Homo sapiens: one gene and its partners. The protein of the gene in region 4 purifies or fractionates together with the protein of the main gene of each other region. This does not show direct contact. Each region holds a gene or a part of one and is shown on either strand. Other genes may lie near its edges. The genes, in order: RAB31, NBAS, CRTAP, SLC25A26, KIRREL1 and MYO19.

Region 1 (3,500 bases), on a different chromosome or scaffold from region 4:
TGTCTTTGGGAAGGCAACAATCACTGCCATCCTGTCTACATGCAGCCACCCACAGCTCCCAGCATAAAAGAAACACTCCACAAATGGTGAATGGCTGAATGAATGAATACCTATTCCATTTTCAAACACATGTCATAAGTGATAAAAACTAAGATAAATGAAAGTGTAAAATCTGCACAGGCATGCAAACACCAAATAAGCGTTATCTACCAGGCTTAATTAAATTTTAAAGGTCTTTTCCAATTAGTGAACTCAAAAGCTTTTGCGTTCTAGCACAGAGGTCCCCAACCCCTGGGGCGGTACTGACCCATGGCTTGTTAGGAACCAGGTTGCACAGCAGGAGGTGAACAGTGAGTGAGCATTACCAGCTGAGCTCTGCCTCCTGTCAAATCAATGGTGACATTAGATTCTCACAGGAGTGCAAACCCTGTTGTGAACTGCGCATGTGAGGGATCTAAGTTGCATGCTCCTCATGAGAATCTAACTAATGCCTGATGATCTGACGTGGAACAGTTTCATCCTAAAACCATCCCCCGCCTCCTGCTCCCATCTGTGGAAAAATCGTCTTCCACAAAACTGATCCCTAGTGCCAAAAAGGTTGGGGACCACTGTCCTAGCATCTTAAAATGTAAAGTTTCCTATTTTCTCATGGCTGTGGCCTTAGAGCAGACCTAAAGGATATATCACACTCACTAAAACAGTGTCATTGGGCCAGGGCAAAAGTAGAGGCCACATGCCTGAACACTATTGACAAGGTACTATGGAATTAATATTTGTGTCCCTCCAACAAAATTCCCATTTTGAAGCCTAACCTCCAATGTGAGGATATTAGGAGGTGGGCCTTTGGGAGGTGCTTAGGTTGTGAGGGTAGAGCCTTCATGAATGGGGTTGGCGTCCTTATAAGAAGAGAAAGAGACCGAGCACTCTCTCAGTCATGTGAAGTTACAGCAAGAAGGCAGCTGTCTGCAAACCAGAAATCGAGCCCTCACCAGGCACTAGATCTGCCAGCGCCTTGGTCTTAGACTTCCCAACCTCCAGAACTGTGAGAATTAAATGTCTATTGTTTAAGCCCTCCAGCCTATGGTATTTTTGTGACAGCAGCTCAAATTAAGACATAAGGGATGGGGGAAGGGACCATGAGAAGCTTGAAAATGCTCCTCAAATGATTCTGATACACACTCCAGAGATGCACTGAGCTCTGAAAGCTGAGGGAGGATGAAAGCAGCAATGCTGACCCTGAACAAAGGAGGAACAAAGGGACCCTGATGGATTCCATCAGCCTGGGATGGGTGCATAAGACACAGTGTTACCATATGCCAGGCACTGCTGGGAAGATAGCCCACTATATCATATTTATTCTCGTGTAACATAGAACGTACCCAGAGTCACCAATGCTGAACATACTTTCCACAAATGGTTCAATTTAGTAGAGGAATCAGTTGTGCCAAGAAATAAATGCTGTGGCTAGCCACTCAACCCTCCCCACCATCCCCCTTCCCCAAGAAATGCCAGTCTCGGGAGAAAAAATAGTAAGTTACTAGAATCTCAGACTTGGAAAGCAAATGTGATCATTACCTAGCCCAACCCACTATCCTATGCATTACTTCCTTCCACAATAACACTAACAAATTCTTATCACCTTATTGGATACTCTGTCATACAGTGCTCATAGCAACTCATGTGAGGTTGCACAGTTCTGATGATCTGCCTTACTGTGAGTATAAATCTGTTCTACTCTTGCGTCCTAGTGTCCCTGGGGAGACAAGAGGCCTTCCATGCGAAGGCCCTGGACATAGGTGAAGTACCCATTACCCAGATGTCTCACCAAATCCCAGGTATTTGACTGCTCTTTAATGAGCCACCATATACATTCCAACAAAGATCACAAGATGCTTCAACAAGCTCCTTACCAGAAGCAGGGAAGCCATCGGCTCTTTTAACTGATCACTCAGCTATTGAGGAAGTGGTAGGAATTTCTAAATTGTTGTCAAGACAACCAAAGTCCAAATATAAATCTCTTTGGGATTCCATCAGGAAGCAGTTTTTAAGTGCACGCAGTTTTTAAGTGCACGCACACAAATACCCCAAGGAGATAACAAAACAAAGGTCCCCTCCTTCTCTTTCTCCTCCTCCCCACTCTCTCCCTTCCTCCTGCTTCTTGCCACATGGTGATGTGTGTTAAAAATGCATACTGGGAAACTTTTCCACCTTTGGGGTTGAAGCAGCTGCTGCCTCAGTGTTGTTTTTGTTAAGTATTTTTTGTTGTTGTTGTTAACATACTTTGTTGCCTTTAAGCTTCATGTTTCATAATACCAGTTCAGATCACAAAGTGGGACGAATGACACTTTCCTGGTAAGAAGGAAACTCATGGGGTCCTGCCCAGGGTGCTTCCCCCTATCAAGCACACCCTCCTGCACGGCTGACTTCCACAGGTGACTCGGCTCAGGCCAGGAAAGGGCGTTCACAAAGGCTTGCTGGGCTGTCCCCATGTGGAATAAACCCAAGAAAGTCCACACATGAAATGTGAGCCAAGAATTTATAACAGGTAACCTAAACAAACCCAACGCTCTTCAGTCCTTGGTTTTCCAAGAACACAAAGCATTCAGAGAATGTTCCACAGGCCATTATCCATCCCATGTGGGAGCATTCACCAATAGAAATAAGCTTGGACATTCCTAATGTGCCAGGAAGACAGGAGAGGTTCAGGTAAAGAAGACCTGGCACCCGGCCCACTTTCACTCCCACCTGCTGCAAATGACTCTAACGTCAGGAGGTAAGACCTCCGACCCCATGGATGGAGCAGGAAACTACAGCAAAGAGTGACCAGCAGGGAGCCTGTGCTGAAAGCGCCTACTGCCCATGCCTAAAACAACCTATACCTTAAATGCGAAGCATGTCCCCAAGTCCCCACTGAGCACAGTACCAGGCACAAAAAGACCAACCCCTCAGCCTTCCCAGTGAGAGTGATATTTTGTTATGAAGTCTATGTTCTCTATCACCTTATAAGGGAAACCCGACAGAAAGTGATTCTAACAGGCAGAAAGAAGGTGTGGCTGTCAGGGTCTTGGTCATAGCAAGACTTCAGGGAGGTGTCTCATGGCTAAAAAACAGGAAGCTGAATGCCAGCCACACACAAAACTTCACCCAGAAAAGACAGACCTCCCTACGCAAAGCACAAATGAGCCCAAGGTTCCTGTTAAAATGTTGAAAGAGCCTGGGCAACATAGGGAGACCCCATCTCTACAAAAATAATAAAAAGTATTAGCTGGGCTGGGTGGTACACACCTGTGGTCCCAGCTACTTGGCAGGCTGAGGTGGGAGGATCACCTGAGCTTGGGAGGCTGAGGCTGCAGTGAGCCAGGATGGCACCATTGCACTCCAGCCTGGGTGACAGAGTGAGACCCTATCTCAAAAATATACATATATTTTTTAAAGGACTTTTGGACTTAGCACTGACTGATCCACAGGGTCTCTCGAATCAAGAGAATAAACCTAGGCTG
Region 2 (3,500 bases), on a different chromosome or scaffold from region 4:
GCACACAACACCACACCTGGCTAATTTTTGTATTTTTAGTAGAGACGGGGGTTCACCATATTAAAAATAACTGGCCGTATAAGTAGATTTCAGATACAACTCTAGAAACCCAGTGAAGATAGTGATTATTATAGATCTGGTAGAGATGGAAGATTTTATATAGTGAAGATGTTTGGAGCAGGGATTTGGAAGGATTTAAATTAGGCCTTCTTGAATGAGAAGGGAGGAAGACATTCTTAACAGGACAGATGGTATGAACAAATTAAAAGACACTGAGCATGATTTATGAGGCCAGTGACTAAATCTGTTTTATTCACTGCTATATTTCCATGTCTAGTTCAGTGGCTGGTGTGCAGTAGGTGCCCAGTAAACATTTTATGGATAAATGAGCTCTGTACATCAACCAGTTTGCTGGCACTGATATTTGACAATAGTGAACACTGGGAAACATGATTGAAAAGATATATTGATTTGAGTTCAGGAGGATGTGGAAAGCTTCTGATGACTTAGGCATTTATCTACTGTTGTGGATTTCTGACTGTGGAAGCAGAGGAAGATGGTGTAGAGAGAATTGGAGTGGAAGGAAGGTAGGAAACCTTGCTTGGGGCAGGGGACTCCTACAGTGTGCTAGATGTTTTGTGTTGATGATTTAGACTGGTATGGAGGCCGCAGCTGTGGAAAAGGGAAAGTGAATTAAGAGACATTTGAAGAAAGAACTGATGTGAGGCAATATATAAAGGATCCTAGGGAATGAGTCAAATCTTAATTAAAATTTATAACCATAATAGCTCTTTCTAGGAAGAGGGCAAGTCAGGGATTTTTTTTTTATTTTTTATTTTTTAATTATTATTTTACTTTAAGTTCTAGGGTACATGTGCACAACGTGCAGGTTTGTTACATATGTATACATGTGCCATGGTGGTGTGCTGCACCCATTAACTCGTCATTTACATTAGGCATATCTCCTAATGCTATCCCTCCCCCCTCCCCCCACCCCCCAGCAGGCCCCGGTGTGTGATGTTCCCCACCCTGTGTCCATGTGTTCTCATTGTTCAATTCCCACCTATGAGTGAGAACATGCGGTGTTTGGTTTTCTGTCCTTGTGATAGTTTGCTCAGAATGATGGTTTCCAGCTTCATCTATGTCCCTATACAGGATGTGAACTCATCCTTTTTTATGGCTGCATAGTATTCCATGGTGTATATATGCCACATTTTCTTAATCCAGTCTATCATTGATGGACATTTGGGTTGGTTCCAAGTCTTTGCTATTGTGAGTAGTGTCGCTATAAACATACGTGTGCATATGTCTTTATAGTAGGAAGATTTGTAATCCTTTGGGTATATGCCCAGTAGTGGGATTGCTGGGTCAAATGGTATTTCTAGTTCTAGATCCTTGAGGAATCGCCACACTGTCTTCCACAATAACAAAGACACAACATACCAGAATCTCTGGGACACATTTAAAGCAGTGTGTAGAGGGAAATTTATAGCACTAAGTGCCCACAAGAGAAAGCAGGAGAGATCTAAAATTGACACCCTAACATCACAATTTACAGAACTAGAGAAATAAGAGCAAACACATTCAAAAGCTAGCAGAAGGCAAGAAATAACTAAGATCAGAGCAGAACTGAAGGAGATAGAGGCACAAAAAAACCTTCAAAAAATCAATGAATCCAGGAGCTGGTTTTTTGAAAAGATCAACAAAATTGATAGACCACTAGCAAGACTAATAAAGTCAGAGATTTTGAATGGAGTTGGAGGAAATAGTTGGGAGGGAGGAATAGGACTTTGATCTTTCCAAAAAACAGCATATCATGACTTTTTATGATCAAGTTATTCACACCCTGGGATATATCTCATGGTCAAATAAATACAGAAATTTGATGGGCTCATTTGTTTTGTTTAAAAGTTAAACATGCTTATTAATTATGACAGAATATATCTTGCCTTTCTGCCTTATTGTCTGCTCTATTATACAGCCACGGTGCAAACCAAAGGCATTTATAAAAGTTAGGAGGAAACATTTTATATTTCCAAAAATGAGTCCTGAGCTTTCTGTTTCTGCGTAGCTCATTAGAGGAAGAAAGCAAGCAGGTCAACTCACACTCCCCGCATCCAGTTGTAGTCACCATTAGGCAACTGGCTGCTTTTCTCTTGAGTTCCTCTAGCAGCTCCCTATGGCCAAGGTCCTAAATAGCTGTAATACATCAGGTATAGCTTTACAATTCTGAAGGCAGTTGTAATGTGTTGTAAGATGTCATGGATTCTGTAATTCCTCTGTTTCTTCCTTTATATGCAGAGTAAAATAAAGAAGCGATCCTGGGTTCTCCATGAGTGTTTGGAAAGAGTTCCTGAAAATGTGGATGCTGCAAAAGAACTGCTTCAGTATGGATTAAAAGGCACAGACCTGGAGGCTCTTTTAGCAATAGGGAAAGGAGCAGATGATGGCAGGTTGGTTACAGAAAGAATTGGATTCAAAGTAAAGGTGACTTTGTGAAAACTTTTGTACTGAGACATTGGACTGGGTAAACTTTTCTTTATTTAAGTTATTCTGTACTGAAGCAGTTGCTTTTGATCAATACTGTCTTACCTGAAGTCATTGCTCATCAGGCATTTGGAACTTTTTAAAAAATATAAATATGAGAGTATATCTGAGAAGTAAATAATTAAAATGAGACTGACACTACCATTTGAAGACCTTAAGTAGAAGTGATTCAAATAGCAAACTCTGTGGACATTTTCAGCATAGGCTGCTTTACATTGAGTGAATGTAACCCCACATCTCTTCCTAAATAGTTTTCATTTTCTTGATTTTTAGATTTCTATTTGTAATAATTACTGATGACTTTTTGCCCATCTGTGGATATAATGAATGATCACTTTGTTTACAATGGCAAAAGTTTTTTTCAAATACTTTCTTCTGTTTTTGTGGAAATCAATAATGAAATCAGTCAAAATAGGAGAAAGCTTTTCACAACACGAAGTTTTTAAAAATGATGAAAATATATTTGTTCTTTTATACTTGCAGATTTACATTACCTGGTGAAATAGACATTGACAGTATCTCCTATGAAGAGCTTTCACCACCTGATGAAGAGCCTGCCAAGAATAAAAAGGAAAAGGAGCTCAAGAAGAGACAAGAACTACTGAAATTAGTGAACTTTTCCAAGTAAATGAGTTGTTACTGTTCATTTGATAGTTTCTTTAAAATAACTAATCATTTCAGTGTGTTCCTTACTAGTAATAATTAGTCCAAATTATTTTAGCAACTTAGATCAAATGTACTTACTATTATCTTACCCTTGTGCTTTTCTGAACTGTTTCATGAGTTTTGGGCTCAACGGAATATTAATCATTTTCATTATAACTCCTAGAGAAATAATTCTGTGTAAATATAAGTGGCCTAACATAGTTATTCAAAACAGGTTGACACTGGAACAAAAGGAACTTTGCCGTTGTAGACGGAAGTTATTAACCTACTTAGATCGACTTGCAACA
Region 3 (3,500 bases), about 33 Mb from region 4:
GGAGGATCACTTGAGCCCAGAAAGTCAAGGCTGCAGTGAGCTGTGATCTTACCACTGCACTCCAGCCTGGGTGACAGAACAAGACTCTTGTGTCAAAAAAAAGTGATGTTTACGTGTTTAAACTCTGTTTATGGATAGAGAGGAAAAGATGGGTGGCAGGCACATACATTCTACCTGGCACCTGAAGGCTGGAGGTCGATATGAAGGTAGATAGTGCGCTGTGGCAGGACATGGATAAATGTTACTCTGCTGTTCTGAGTTGCAGTTCTCTGTTTCAGTGATTAAGGAGAAATGCCTCAATTGATCACTGGAATAGCAATGGTGGGTTCCGACTGCCAGAGGGAGGCGAGGAGGTTTGGATGTGTGCTCTTGTAGAAAAGGGCTGTGCTACTGGTGTGCAGCCTCAGGTGCATCATAGGTTTCTCGTCACCAGCCTACTCTAGGTCCATGTCATTAGCTTTCTTTGGGTTCTCTCCACAATTACCATCTTCCACGAAAAACTCATTTTTCTCATAGGCCAAGCAAAAAGTAGGCCGGAGCACTTCATCAAATCCTTAATGACTGTTGAGCTCTAACCTGGACAGAGAACACTGACTCACAGGCACTGTTAACCCCAGGCCTTGCCTGGCTGTGGCCTCTAACTCCCCGGAACCACAGGGCCTGCCTCTGTGTCATGGCTGATTTAGGGTGGCTCATGCTGGTGGCTGTATCTCAGGAACCCAAGGCAAGGTGGTTCCCTCCATCCCTACCACCTTCTCCAAAATCTGCCTGGGGTCTGTCAGAGGTTTGGTAGCCAAGATGTGTCTCCATGTTCCAGCTGCAGAGCCTGAGTTGAAGTAAATAAAATCACTCTTTTCTCTTCAGGAAGAGATTCCGTTTTGTAAAACATCCTAAGTTAGAAGCCTTAAAAATCCTACTCTGTGCCCCTCTTTCTATTCCTTTCTTTCTTTCTTTCTTTCTTTTTTGAGACGGAATCTCACTGTGTCACCCAGACTGGAGTGCAGTGGTGCGATCCTGGCTCACTGCAACCTCCGCCCCCCGGGTTCAAGTGATTCTCCTGCCTCAGCCTCCCGAGTAGCTGGGATTACAAGCACCTGCCACTGTGCCTGGCTAATTTTTGTCTTTTTAGTAGAGATGGGGTTTCATCATCTTGGCCAGGCTGATCTTGGACTCCTGACCTCGTGATCCACCCACCTCGACCTCCTAAAGTGCTGGGATTACAGGCATGAGCCACTGCTCCCGGCCTCTGTGCCCCTCTTTCTAAGTGCTGTTCTGAGAATTAGTGACTCTAATTTCACTGGCAAATGCTTTAAAAGGCAGCATTCATACCCTCTCCCTTCCTTCCAGCTGAAGACTAGCCTTTTTCTGGCCAGGAGTGTGAAGCTTTCTGTAGGGCTGTTTTAAAGGCAGCCCTGCCACAAGCCACTAATTGGCATTCCCAAAACATCAGCATTGACATCTGGGAGTCTGCCCTCATCACCACCCACCACTTCTCTGATGTGGCCACTGCCATTGTCTCAAAATGACTTGGTTCCAATTCTGGGGCAATTCGGTACCGATATATGCCATCCTATGACTCTTAGAAGTCTAGGGTATACCAAATATTCCTTTATTTTCTCTGTCTAAACCGAATTCCCTAATTCCCGCCTTGGAGCGTCCCTCTGGATTGGCTGAGTCTCTGTGCACATGCACAGGTGCCTGCCCTTCTCCCTACTAGGTTGTGCCAAGAGTCCATCAGCATGGGGGCCCTCTGGTTGGTGGTCATGAGTCCTCACAGGGAGGCCTCTGCATCCTTATTTGCCTGCCCTCCTGAGGTCCTGCCATAACATACCTGTTCTTCCTGAGGACTTCTGCCGTCTTGAACACTGCCGATAAGTGCCAGCCCTGAAGCTCCGGGGCCCGCAGCCCTGCTGCTCTCACAGATCCCAAGGGAAACTTTTTTCCTAGCCTGGGAGATTCCCTTTCTCCCTCTTCTTCTCCCAGGCCAGTCAGCTTCTTCCTGCAGCTCCTCTCCAATTTCTTTCTCCCCTCAAACCTGTCAGGCTCTTTTGTGAGTGCAGGCTTTTTTCAAGTGAATAATTTGCTGGTTCTGACCAGATATCTACCTCCCCTGAGACAGTGAAACTCAGAATCATTGGCCCCTTCAATGGAGAGAAGACAGAGGGGAAAAGAGAGGAAAATGTGAATTAATTTTATTATATTTTATGGTCATAATGTCATTATGTTCAAATCACAGATACTTATTGTGTCCTGCCTTGTCCTGAGGACTGTGTGAGGCACCAGGAATCCAGATAATGAATGACACACAGCTGGGTCCCCCGAGGATCATAGTCTGATGGGGGAGATAGACGTACCACTGAGATTGTAGGGTGGCGTAAAATGCGGGAAGACAGAACCCAGAACTAGCCCAACAGAGAGGCTCTTAATTGAGGCCACTAGGAGACAGGGAGAACTTAACAGAATATATGGTCCATGCAGGTGGGGATTTTTTTTTCCTGTTTTGCTTATTGTTATAGACCCACAACCTAGAAATGGTGCTCTTGTAATATGACGTTTATTGCTGCATGAATGGATGAATAAGTGAGGAGGTGGTGGAGTCATTGAGAATGTTAGCAGAAGGTCTGTGGGGGATTTGGGAAAACAATATATTTGTCAAGGTGCCAGTGGAAAAGATATGGTGCAGTCATATTGGGTAATTGGAGGAAAGTTTAAGAAGGTGGTTATTTACAAAGGTGTGTGCAGTGCATGGGGAATCCACAAGAGATAGTGTTCTGCCACAGGGGTGATAGCAGTGGGATATGACCAACCCTAGGCCAAAAGGGGCAGGGGAGAGAGCAGTGATTGAAACCGGGAAGGAGGGAGACTCTATGGAGAGGGTCACCTTGAGAAGAACTGTGATCTTCAATTAAGGGACATAGCAGCCCAAGAGGACTGTGCAGGGAGGGAACCAGGAAATGAAATAACATGACCTTACTCTCTTCCCTTCCTCAGTCATCTACTGGGGCTCCTCATGGGTGAACCTCTTTGGAAGCCAGAGAGCGAGGGAGTCTGTTGTTATAGTCCACACAGGCCAGCCTCCTGGGGCATGTAGCCAGTGCAGAGTAGATTGGGAAAGGCAGACCGAGGCCATCCAGACAGTCGCTTTCAGGAAATCAGCACTTGTCTCACAGTGCCTGGACTTGGTCTTGAGGGGCCCTGGAAGTCATGGAACCTTTAGCTGGAAAAGTTATAGCAACACAAAGTTTCTGAAGGACTAAGCAGATATTCTTGTTTTACAAAAATTACCACTTAGCATCCATGGAGTAGCTTTTATGTTCTTTGTCCTTTTAGGCAAATAATCTCCCCAAAGCCATCGCCGCTGCTCACACCTTTCTACTGAAGCATCCTGATGACGAAATGATGAAGAGGAACATGGCATATTATAAGAGCCTGCCTGGTGCCGAGGACTACATTAAAGACCTGGAAACCAAGTCATATGAAGTATGTTTGGATTTTTATGT
Region 4 (3,500 bases):
CCAGCATAGCTCTAGAATCAGACCCCTGGACGGGAGTGTTTGATTAGCCAGACCTAACTCACCTGATTGTGGTCCTCCTGCCAGGGTAGGAGGGGAGAGACTGACTCCCTTTGTTTTTCCTAACTGGGAAGCCCCCCACACGTGAGAGTCGGAAGCTGGGCTGCCAGAGAAGGCAGGTGTGCCCTGCAACATTATGTACCGCCTTCCAGTGTTGCTTGCTCTTTAGAAATTTATGTTCCCAGGGTTCCATTATTGGCTTTGATCTTCCTTTTTGGTTCTCTCTTTGGGTGTTACTATCTGGTTTTAGCGATCACCTGTATGCTGATGACTTCCATATCTGTATTCACATCCAAGAAAAAGTTACTTTCTAGTTTTATAGCCATATATTCATTTCTTGACTGGACATAGCCCCTTACCTGTCCCCCAGACTTCAACTCAGCCTTGCCTAGTCTGAACTTACCTCCCTTCTTCCCTGGACTGCTAATCTCATGTTTTGGGACCACCATATGCCTATTATCCAAACCAGAAACAGAAGCATCTTACTGTCTCCCTACTTCTTCACTCCTTAACCTCCTGTCAGTGACCAGGTCCGGTGCATTTTACTCCTTTTTCCTCAGATTTGACCTTCTCTGAGCCATATTCATTTCCAGATGTCTTTTATAGAACTGCTATAGCAGTCTCGTAACCCATCTTTTGCCTTCTGGCTCGTGGTCCCCCTTTGCTTCTTGCCTTCCTCCCCACCCTCCAGCTGTCCTGTGCATTGCAGCCAGAGTGATCTCCCTAAGCACACGTCATTCCTCTGCTTCAGCTTTTTCAAGTGTTCCCACTGACTATGGAATGAAGTTTCAGCCCCTTAGCATGGTATACAGGGCCTTGTCTGTCCAGTCTTACTTGTCATTACTCCTGACCTTGCACTTGCTGCTTTGGTAATACGGAATGGTGTGGGCAGCTGCCAGCTTTGGAATACTGTGTTGGTGGGACTGCCGCTGATTCCCCTGAACACCCTGCTTTTGTATTTATGTACTTCCTTTTATTGTTCATTCTTCCCACTGTGCCCTTTCCACCTTTCTTGCCAGCTCATTCCGGCTCATCCAGAAGGTTCTATAATGGTGTAATCTTGGGCAGTTTCTCTGAATCTGGGGGTTGGACTAAATACCCCTCCTCCACATTTCCCATAATCTTTGTCCATGCGCCCCACCCCCCTTTTGGCCATGTTTTATTGAAATTATTTATATGTATTTGCGGGTTCTTTGAAGCCAGGGCATCATCTTAGTCTTCTTTATCATGGAGTGGCTTGTGTGGTATCTGGCTCCATATGTATTTCTTGAACTGAATTAGATAAGTTTGAAGGGAGACTGGGTGGAAAAATATGTTGGCCCAAGTTACAGACAGCTTTATACATAAGAAGCATTCAAATGTTCAGTGAATGAAGAAATGGAAATCAGATGATATCGTTTTGTAAATCTTGTCAGTTTTGGTAGAAAAATAACTTCAGGTTATGAATCCTTTGTTAACATAACCATACCCTTTGTTGTAATGCATCGGTATGAAGCATTGTTACTTCTTAGCTTTAGAGGCAATATGCCCGTGTTAGCTGACTTCATGACATCTAAAATCACATCACATGGTGTCTTTGTCCCACTTGTCATGGGGTGCTCGGGCTTATATCTGTTCTGTGCCCAGTCTGCTCTTGCCAAGGCTAATTCCCTTGGAGTAGGAGTTGGCAAGCTGTCACCTGTTTTTGTAAATATAGTTTTATTGGAACATAGGCAAACTTTTAATTTATATATTATTATGTATAGATGCTTTTGTGCTAAAACAGCATAGTTGAACAATTGTGACAGAGACCATGTGGCTTGCAAACTGTAAAATATTTCCTATTTGGTCTTTTACATTATAAATTTGCTGTAGAGCCTTGCCTTAGAACCATTTAATTTTGGACAGGCAAAGCCTTATGTGATATCCAAATTGAGTACTGATCTCTGATTAGGAATCAGGAGAATACGGATCATAAAGGGCAAACCTCTTTGAGTTGTGTACTCTATTTGGTGGAATGGTTTTCTTACATTTCTTGCAGGCTGGTCTTGAACTCCAGGGCTCAAGCGACCTTCCTGTCTCGGCTTCCCGAGTGCCATAACTTTCATGTTCAAGGTTACATATGTGAAATCTAAGTTGCAGAAAAAGTTTGTATATTTGCAGACTGCTAGGTGCATAGCGGCTTAAATACAGGACTTTCATTAAAATGTTTAAAATATTTTTACACATCTCCCTCCCTGTACCTTGCCACCCCTTCTCCAACCTTGCCTTCTTTGCTTTTGTGGGCAGAGTTCCTTTGGGTTTGACTAATTCTTTATTGTTTCTATTTCTGAAAATAAGTAAATTACCTTAATATAGGGTAAGGTAAAATCCTGGCAGTGTGGATTTGAGATGACATATACCCGGCCTCAGCATGTCACCAAGGGTGATATTAGAATCATATATTGGCTGGTAGCTGTGAGGATGACTCAAGTCTGCTGGAATGCTGGAGGAGAGTGTATGAGAGTGCTGGGAGTCCCTTTTCAGTTGCTGCATGATCAAGAGGTCTAGGGGCTGGAGTTGGTGAAGGGTGGAAGGCTGGGTACCAGCTGATGGTCAGCTTGCCTCTACGGATGTATGCATTACTTCCAGTAAAGCAGAGGTTCCTCTGGTTCATTTTTCATCACACATGTTTGAAATGTCATGTGCCAGTTGCAGTTCTGGGCGTTGGGGATTCGAAATGAGTAAATGTGCTTCTTGCCGTTGGGAGGCTTGTAGACAGATGTTCTTGGAACATCTGGCGGGAGGTGGCAGGATCTATATAGGACAAGCCAGGAAAGGTTCTGGGCTGACAAAACAATGTACATGCTTTAAGGGTCCAAGAGTTTTAGGTTAAAAAAAAAAAAAGAAACTTTTTGACATCTTGCAGTAAGCCTACATATTATACCTTTTTACTACAATTTTTGCTTACCAAAAAATTTCAATTTTTATAGCAGTTATTTACTTTTTAGGATATAATCAAATTTGTCTTTTAGGTTGCCTGCCTGATTCGAGTTCCATCTGAAGTGGTTAAGCAGAGGGCACAGGTATCTGCTTCTACAAGAACATTTCAGATTTTCTCTAACATCTTATATGAAGAGGTGAGATGGGTTTTTTAAGCTCTTCTTTTCTTTATTAAGATTTTATAGTAGCTAATACGAACACTGTGGATTTCATCCTAAGAGCCTTAGAGAAAACTTTAGAGCTAAATTTAATGTCCAGTTATAGTAAATTTTTGCTAAGATTATCTTTGCCTTTTATTGGTTTTTGAATATTTTCATTTACATGTTTTTCAAATTTCTGAGCATAACATTGAGTGTCCTGAATTGTAATCTTCCTGCAGTTCTTCTGGAATCAGATGTGAAACAAATTTTAAATATGTAAAATGAAGAAAGATATTATATTAAAACATCAGTATAGTATTTTAGGTCCATGGAAGAGATTTA
Region 5 (3,500 bases), on a different chromosome or scaffold from region 4:
AACAAACAATAAACCAGTAGGGGCATGGAGTACCAGAAAATATTATAGGCCAGGAAAGAAAAGCAGACAAGGACTGGGAAAGATGTGTGAGCTGAGGACCTAGAGGAAGCCACCACAAGAGCAATGAAGACAGTGGTTGTAGATTAGGGGGTAGGGTGGTACCGCCTACCTAGAGGCGCACATGCAGGTGGAAGGATGCTTCCAGAGGCAGGAGTTTTGGTCTTCAGGGAAGTGTTAGCCACACCCTGCACTGACTTTGCTCTGCTTTCTCCCACAGTCCCCCCAGAGGACACCAGGATTGACGGAGGCCCTGTGATTCTACTGCAGGCAGGCACCCCCCACAACCTCACATGCCGGGCCTTCAATGCGAAGCCTGCTGCCACCATCATCTGGTTCCGGGACGGGACGCAGCAGGAGGGCGCTGTGGCCAGCACGGTGAGCTCCAGCCAGCTCCCCCAGCTCCTCCTGGGCCTAGCCCAGCTCACCTCTCCTTTCCCACAGGGGTTTCACCACAGACTCAGGAGCACACAGACATGAGAGGGGTCTTAGAGGTCATCTGGTTCAACCCTCTCATTCTACAGTTGGGAAAATTGAAACCCAGAGAAGAGAAATGAATTCCTAGGTTTACTGTGTCATTCAGTAGCTGAACAGAGACTAATAGTAATAATAAGTTGCCATGGATTAAGCACCTACTGTGTGCCAGACACCGTGCATGCTAAACACTTTATGGACAGTCTCTCTTAATCTTCATAGGAGTCCCATAAAGGAGGCATTATTTCCAACTCACAAAGGAGGAAACTTGCGCTCAGAGAGGTTGAGTGACTTGTCCAAGGTCACACAGCTGGCACAGAGCGGGGGTTTGTACCTGGGTCTGACTGTGCTTTCTCTCCACTGATCACTTCTACCTCTTTCCTTCAGCGTCTGGTTGTCAGATTATTCCAGTCATCACAACAAAGAGGCTGGGGAAGCAGAGATCCTTGTATACATTTTATAGATGAGGAAGCCATGAAAGATATCAAGTGACTTGCCCAGGATTACATAGCAAAGCGGACAGTACAGCTGGAATTCAAAGCCAGATTTCCTGGTTGGGGTTACCCTGCCAGTTGTGGGTAAACATATGTGTATTCAGCCCTTTGCTGGTGCTGCAGGAGCACTTCTCAGTGTGGAGACAGAGATGTTCCCATGCTCCTCAGCAAGCAATCCCAGGAATACCTGGCTTCTGGCTTCAGTTCTGCCCTTAACACACTGTGTGACCTTGGATAATTCGCTTCACTTTTTTCTGGCCTTAGTTTCTCATTTGACAAATGATAATTCAGCCTCAGTGGTACTTAACCTTTTCACAACCAAAAACTGTGATTTTTCTTCATCAGGGCTACATGTTTTTAGATATTTTGGCAACCAAACAAGTTGGTTTGTTAATATCCATTTGTCATCTACCCCCATTTTTCATATTCATTAAAGACAATGGAGCTTCAAAGCAGCACAAGGGAGCCAGTGTTATTGCACTGGCCCTCAACTGGGCCTGTCCAGCAAAGCTGCATGCATGGTGGTCAAACAACGGGGTCTTACTTTGATTAATAATATGGCTTCCCTCAGGCAGTTTGCAATATAGAAAACAGATCAAGGGTTCCTGTGACCATATTTAGGGACCCCTGGCTGTCACTGAGCAAGTGTAAGACTTCGAGCCTGTGAGTCCCTTCCCTGCCCTCAAGGAGTTTACAGTTTAGCAGAAGAAACCCAACCCTGAAACACGCACACATGGTGCCTACAAGCAAGGTTGGATGTGTCTAGAGCTGTGAGCAGGACACACTGACTATAAGGGCATAAATTCAGTCTGGGAGAGAGTTCTGAGGGCTGGGCTGGCTGAAGAAGGCTTTCCAGAAGAGAAGGGATTTGCGCTGGACTCACAAAGAGTGAACTCTAATATAAACTGTGGCCTTAATAATAATATATTAGTTTCGGTCCATCAGTTGTAACAGACTTATCACTCTAATGCAAGGTGTTAAGGTGTTAGTAATGGGGGAAAGTGTAAGGTCGGGGAGGAGGGTATATGGAAACTCCCTGTACTTTCTGCTCAATTTTTCTGTAAACTTAAAACTGCTCCAAAAGATAGTCTGTGATGTGGGCATGATGGCACACTCCTGTAGTCGCTGCTACTCAGAAGGCTCAGGCAGGAGGATTGCTTGAGTCCAAGCTTTGGAGGCCAGCCTGGGCAACATAGCAAGACCCTAAAAATATATAACTTTTAATTAAAAGATAATTAGTAGTCTATTGATTAAACACACACACACACACACACACACACAAGGGAAGAGGTTGTGGGAGTGAAGGGGATTGAGCTTTAAGTTAAAGTACCCCTCCAGCCCAAGCCCATCTCTGAGTGAGGTCAACTTAAGAGCAGAGGAGGGGGCTTTTAGCTTAACCATATCTCCCACCCTTGTCATGTTCCAGGAATTGCTGAAGGATGGGAAGAGGGAGACCACCGTGAGCCAACTGCTTATTAACCCCACGGACCTGGACATAGGGCGTGTCTTCACTTGCCGAAGCATGAACGAAGCCATCCCTAGTGGCAAGGAGACTTCCATCGAGCTGGATGTGCACCGTGAGTGGGCTGGGGGGAGCAGTCTGGAGCAGGGGGGTGGAAGAAGGGGTGTGTTTGAGAAGCACACTCTTAGTTTGAGAAACACAAACTAAGAGTCCCCCTATGGTCCCCAGGACAAACGCTTGCCTTCTTCACATCTTTCATTCCCTGGATTGAACCATGGGGACTAAGGGCTGGTAGAGCATTGGCTGTGGAGTCAGGCAGTCCCCAGGTCTAAACCAGCCTGTTATTAGTCAATGGTTTACACTCTCTGGGCCTCGGTTTCCAGTTCTGTATACTGTATATTGCAAAAGATAAAATACTGGCCTACAGTCCCTTATTCAAACTAAAAGTGGTTCGATGGTGCAGCCTGAACCAAGGCTCTTCATAGTCTTTTATTTAATTTAGTCTTAAGTTTCACTGCAGATGTATTCATATGTGTGACTATGGGATGTGGCCCAGATGCTGCTGGGGATCTTACACAGTAAACGCTCTATGCACAACCATTGCCTTTCTAAATGTGAAAAATTCTAAATTCTGAAATGCATCTAGTCCTAAGGGTTTCAAATAAGGGATTGTGGACCTGGACCTGCTTCCTGGGGTTGTGAGCATTAAATGAGATATAGCAGAAGAGCATCTAGCATGGAGTATTCTTACCTGGTAGGTGTGTAATAAATTGTCTCTCCCCAGGGAACCATGGGGGTGTGGGCAGCAACTGGGGATGCCCACACCCCATCCTTTTTAGTGAGCCAAGCAAGCTCACACTGACGCCTAGTGGCCACAGTGGGTCATTAGTCCATTGAGTTATTTGTCCCTTTGGTGCCTTCATTGGTGGTCACCCTAGCAGGCCCCCTAGAGGCTCCATGTGCAAAAGGTGAGGAAGACAGTGTGTTAACTGGAGCCGATACACTGCAACCTC
Region 6 (3,500 bases), on a different chromosome or scaffold from region 4:
TGGCTAATTTTTTGAATTTTTTTTAGTAGAGACGGGGTTTCACCGTGTTAACCAGGATGGTCTCGATCTCCTCACTTTGTGTCCTGCCCGCCTTGGCCTCCCAGAGTGCTGGGATTATAGGCATGAGCCACTGTGCCTGGCCTCACCTTCACGTTATCTCTTCCAGGTCAATGGCCACAATCCGGGGTCTGATGGCCAAGCCAGGGAGTACCTCAGAGAAGACCTGCAGGAGTTCCTGGGTGGGGAGGTCCTGCTGTACAAACTGGATGACCTCACCAGGGTGAATCCTGTGACACTAGAGACAGGTATGGGCCTCCCATTCCTCAGGAGTATCATCTCCAGGAGGTTGGAGGTGTAATGAGAGTAGTCAGCACAGCTTCTCCAGGTCAGACGGAGGTCGGCAGGACTCCTGATCTGGAGCCAGGTGGGCTGCTCCAGACCTCCGCCTGAGGGAGCATGACAGCTGCACCTGGGCTCCCCAGGGCATGCTTTGCTTCAGATTTGGAGCTCATCTTAATTAGATCTTGTATCTTTTCTTCAGGGAGCTGCTGGGATTTAATGATTCTTGGCTAATTGCAGAAAGAGGGCTGTTACTTAAGTAGATGTGTGTCTGTGTGTGTGGTTTGACTATATTTGAGCCCGAGTTTGCTAAAGGCATCTCTGCCTCAGTCCTGAGGTGCCTGCAGGCCCGGTACATGGCAGACACATTCTACACCAATGCTGGCTGCACCCTGGTAGCCTTGAACCCCTTCAAGCCTGTTCCTCAGCTCTACTCGCCCGAGCTAATGAGAGAGTACCATGCTGCGCCTCAGCCCCAGGTAAGGCTCTGCCGCTGCCTGTGGCCTCAGGGCTCCTCTACCTCCCGCTAAACCTCTTTGCAGTTACCCCTGTCCTTATTCATCTATTCACCAGCAATGTGGTCATTCAGAGTCTGCTAGTGCCACGGCCTGCCCAATAGGAGCTGGCAGAATTTTGAACCATGAAGAACTGACTACAGGACAGAAGGTGCAAAGTGGGGAATAAATAAATATTTGTTTAACTGAGTTTGGAACCTAAAATAAGAGACATAAGAGAAAGGATTTTTTTTTCTTGTTTGCGGTTTTATTAACAGGAAAGGATTTATAAAGGTATTATATATTTGTTTATTTAACAAACTACCTTTTTATTTTTTATTATTATTTATTTATTTATTTATTTATTTTGAGATGGAGTTTCAGTCTTATTGCCCAGACTGGAGTGCAATGGCATGATCTGGGCTCAGCGCAACCTCCACCTCCTGAGTTCAAGCAATTCTCCTGCTTCAGCCTCCTGAGTAGCTGGGATTACAGGCATATGCCACCACACCTGGCTAATTTTGTATTTTTAGTAGGCATATTGGTCAGGCTGGTCTCAAACTCCTGACATCAGGTGATCTACCCACCTTGGCCTCCCAAAGCGCTGGAATTACAGGTGTGAGCCACTGTACCCGGCCCTATTTATTTTGAGACTGAGTCTCTCCCTGTCACCCAGGCTGGAGCGCAGTAGTGCGATCTTGACTCACCGCAACCTCCGCCTCCAGGGTTCAAGTGATTCTTGTGCCTCAGCCTCCCGAGTAGCTGGGACTACAGGTGCCCACCACCATGCCCGGCTAATTTTTGTATTTTTAGTAGAGATGGGGTTTCACCATGTTGGCCAGGCTGGTCTCGAACTCCTGACCTCAAGTGATCCACCTGCCGTAGCCTCCCAAAGTGCTGAGATTATAGGCATGAGCCACTGAGTCCAGCAAAACTACCTTTTTAGGAAAGAATGAAATTATACACGATAAGGATTGCCCTGGAAAATTCAGCATATGTTTATCTCTGCTGAGGAAAGTAACTTATTCTTTTACTGAGAAAAGGATAAGTTATTTGGGGTGGGGTGGTGGAGGTACAGACAGATAATGAGCTTGTTGGTGTAAAAGTGCATGATGCATTCAGGGAGAGGTGAGAGAAAACTTGCTGGCAGGAGGGAGGTCTTGGGGGCAAGAGGGAGTAGATGAGAGCAGGAAGACGAGAAAGCCAGGGTTGTTTGTGAAGAGTCTGAAGCACCATAGCAGGCAGAGAGAATCTGCAGAGCATCTTCATCCAGGTAGAGGTGGGACTGGGAACAGAACCCACTAGACGAATAATTACTGTGGGAGTTGGGTTCAAGAAGGTGAGGCAGGAGGCAGAGACAACAGTTGGAGGCTTTGTATCCCTCCAGGTGATAGGTGGCTGGGGCAAGGGCAGGTGTAGAGAGGAGTGGCTCTGACGCCATATGGAACAGTTGCCTTCTCCCTCAGCAAGCTGTGGGTAAGTGATCACTGCTGGCTGGGTTAGCTAGGCATTGTGGAGATGGCGTGGCCCTCCAGAAGTTCATGCGTGATGAGGTATCCAGTTGGAATCCAGGGGCAGTCTGTCCTGAGAGCCCTGTCTGCTGTCTGCCCTGCCTCCGGAAAAGTAAAAGCCAAGTCGTAGTCCCCTATGTTTCCTCAGCATCCAGCTTGATTGATGCCTAGTACATTGAAGACAGTTAATAGTTGTTGAAGAAAAGGGGAACAGTGGCTTTGGAATTTAAATCACATGGATATACTTACTTGCTGAGTGGCCTTGCAAGGTTATTTAACTCCTCTGAACCTCACATTCCTTATCTATAAAATAGGGTTATATTTCCAATTAGTGGACAGGCTTCTTAGTAGTTTATACGAACTTTGCAAATTGCAAATTATAGTAATATGAAGTAATAGGCAGAAGGATAAGACAATTAAAGCAAGATAAGATGGGGGTATAAAGTGTTAATGTCATAAACTGGTCAAGGCTAGCCCTGCTTCTAGGCTGAGAGAAAATGAATAGGTAAAGCCAACATAGGGGTTCTAAAGTTGGGCCTAACAATGTGACATCCAGAAAATTTTTCTGGAGGAAGCATCCCACCACTGCTATTGGCAGCCTCCCCATCTCAGTCATCATTGGCTCAGTCATCATTGAAAAACAGGCATTCCCTCACATGACCTTTCACTCCTTGATGTTCCAGAAACTGAAGCCCCATGTGTTCACTGTGGGTGAACAGACCTACAGGAATGTCAAGAGCCTGATTGAACCAGTCAACCAGTCTATTGTTGTCAGTGGAGAGAGTGGTGCTGGAAAGGTAGGAAGACGTCTTTCCCATCCTGTCAACTCACGACTGGCTGGGTGGACAGGGAGGCAGGGGTCATTCCTTGGCCTTCCTTGTGGAGTTGTTTGCTTCCTAATCATTCCCACATAGGCTGGCTGAAGCTGGGGTTGGTGCACAATGGTGGGCTAGCACTGAGCCGGAAGTCAAGAGACAGGATACCAGTCCAGGCTCTACTGCAAGCTCTGCCATCACCCTGGGTGAAATAGGAATGAAGTTTCCTTTCTAAGCCTTATTTTCTCATCGAAAGTGTCTCCCAGCTCTTGACACTACTGGAAACAAAAGTCAGCTGCTGGGGATTCCAGCATAGTGGTTAAGAACACATCAGAAAAGTA

The links.
Region 1: the proteins of SLC25A26 (region 4) and RAB31 purify together in Homo sapiens (affinity purification with mass spectrometry; one large-scale study listed by BioGRID and IntAct). This does not show direct contact.
Region 2: the proteins of SLC25A26 (region 4) and NBAS purify together in Homo sapiens (affinity purification with mass spectrometry; one large-scale study listed by BioGRID and IntAct). This does not show direct contact.
Region 3: the proteins of SLC25A26 (region 4) and CRTAP purify together in Homo sapiens (affinity purification with mass spectrometry; one large-scale study listed by BioGRID and IntAct). This does not show direct contact.
Region 5: the proteins of SLC25A26 (region 4) and KIRREL1 purify together in Homo sapiens (affinity purification with mass spectrometry; one large-scale study listed by BioGRID and IntAct). This does not show direct contact.
Region 6: the proteins of SLC25A26 (region 4) and MYO19 purify together in Homo sapiens (affinity purification with mass spectrometry; one large-scale study listed by BioGRID and IntAct). This does not show direct contact.

Annotation. Positions count from the first base shown.
Region 1 is NC_000018.10:9,711,301-9,714,800, reverse strand, and holds part of RAB31 (ras-related protein Rab-31), read right to left. Parts: intron 1-3,500. UniProt on the Homo sapiens protein: The small GTPases Rab are key regulators of intracellular membrane trafficking, from the formation of transport vesicles to their fusion with membranes.
Region 2 is NC_000002.12:15,467,335-15,470,834, reverse strand, and holds part of NBAS (NBAS subunit of NRZ tethering complex), read left to right. Parts: intron 1-2,301; coding exon 2,302-2,453; intron 2,454-3,030; coding exon 3,031-3,171; intron 3,172-3,427; coding exon 3,428-3,500. UniProt on the Homo sapiens protein: Involved in Golgi-to-endoplasmic reticulum (ER) retrograde transport; the function is proposed to depend on its association in the NRZ complex which is believed to play a role in SNARE assembly at the ER. Required for normal embryonic development.
Region 3 is NC_000003.12:33,117,014-33,120,513, forward strand, and holds part of CRTAP (cartilage-associated protein isoform 1 precursor), read left to right. Parts: intron 1-3,330; coding exon 3,331-3,480; intron 3,481-3,500. UniProt on the Homo sapiens protein: Necessary for efficient 3-hydroxylation of fibrillar collagen prolyl residues.
Region 4 is NC_000003.12:66,259,001-66,262,500, forward strand, and holds part of SLC25A26 (mitochondrial S-adenosylmethionine carrier protein), read left to right. Parts: intron 1-3,050; coding exon 3,051-3,155; intron 3,156-3,500. UniProt on the Homo sapiens protein: Mitochondrial S-adenosyl-L-methionine/S-adenosyl-L-homocysteine antiporter.
Region 5 is NC_000001.11:158,084,145-158,087,644, forward strand, and holds part of KIRREL1 (kin of IRRE-like protein 1 isoform 1 precursor), read left to right. Parts: intron 1-277; coding exon 278-435; intron 436-2,451; coding exon 2,452-2,602; intron 2,603-3,500. UniProt on the Homo sapiens protein: Required for proper function of the glomerular filtration barrier. It is involved in the maintenance of a stable podocyte architecture with interdigitating foot processes connected by specialized cell-cell junctions, known as the slit diaphragm.
Region 6 is NC_000017.11:36,524,869-36,528,368, reverse strand, and holds part of MYO19 (unconventional myosin-XIX), read left to right. Parts: intron 1-166; coding exon 167-305; intron 306-669; coding exon 670-818; intron 819-912; coding exon of another isoform or gene 913-1,005; intron 1,006-3,027; coding exon 3,028-3,141; intron 3,142-3,500. UniProt on the Homo sapiens protein: Actin-based motor molecule with ATPase activity that localizes to the mitochondrion outer membrane. Motor protein that moves towards the plus-end of actin filaments. Required for mitochondrial inheritance during mitosis.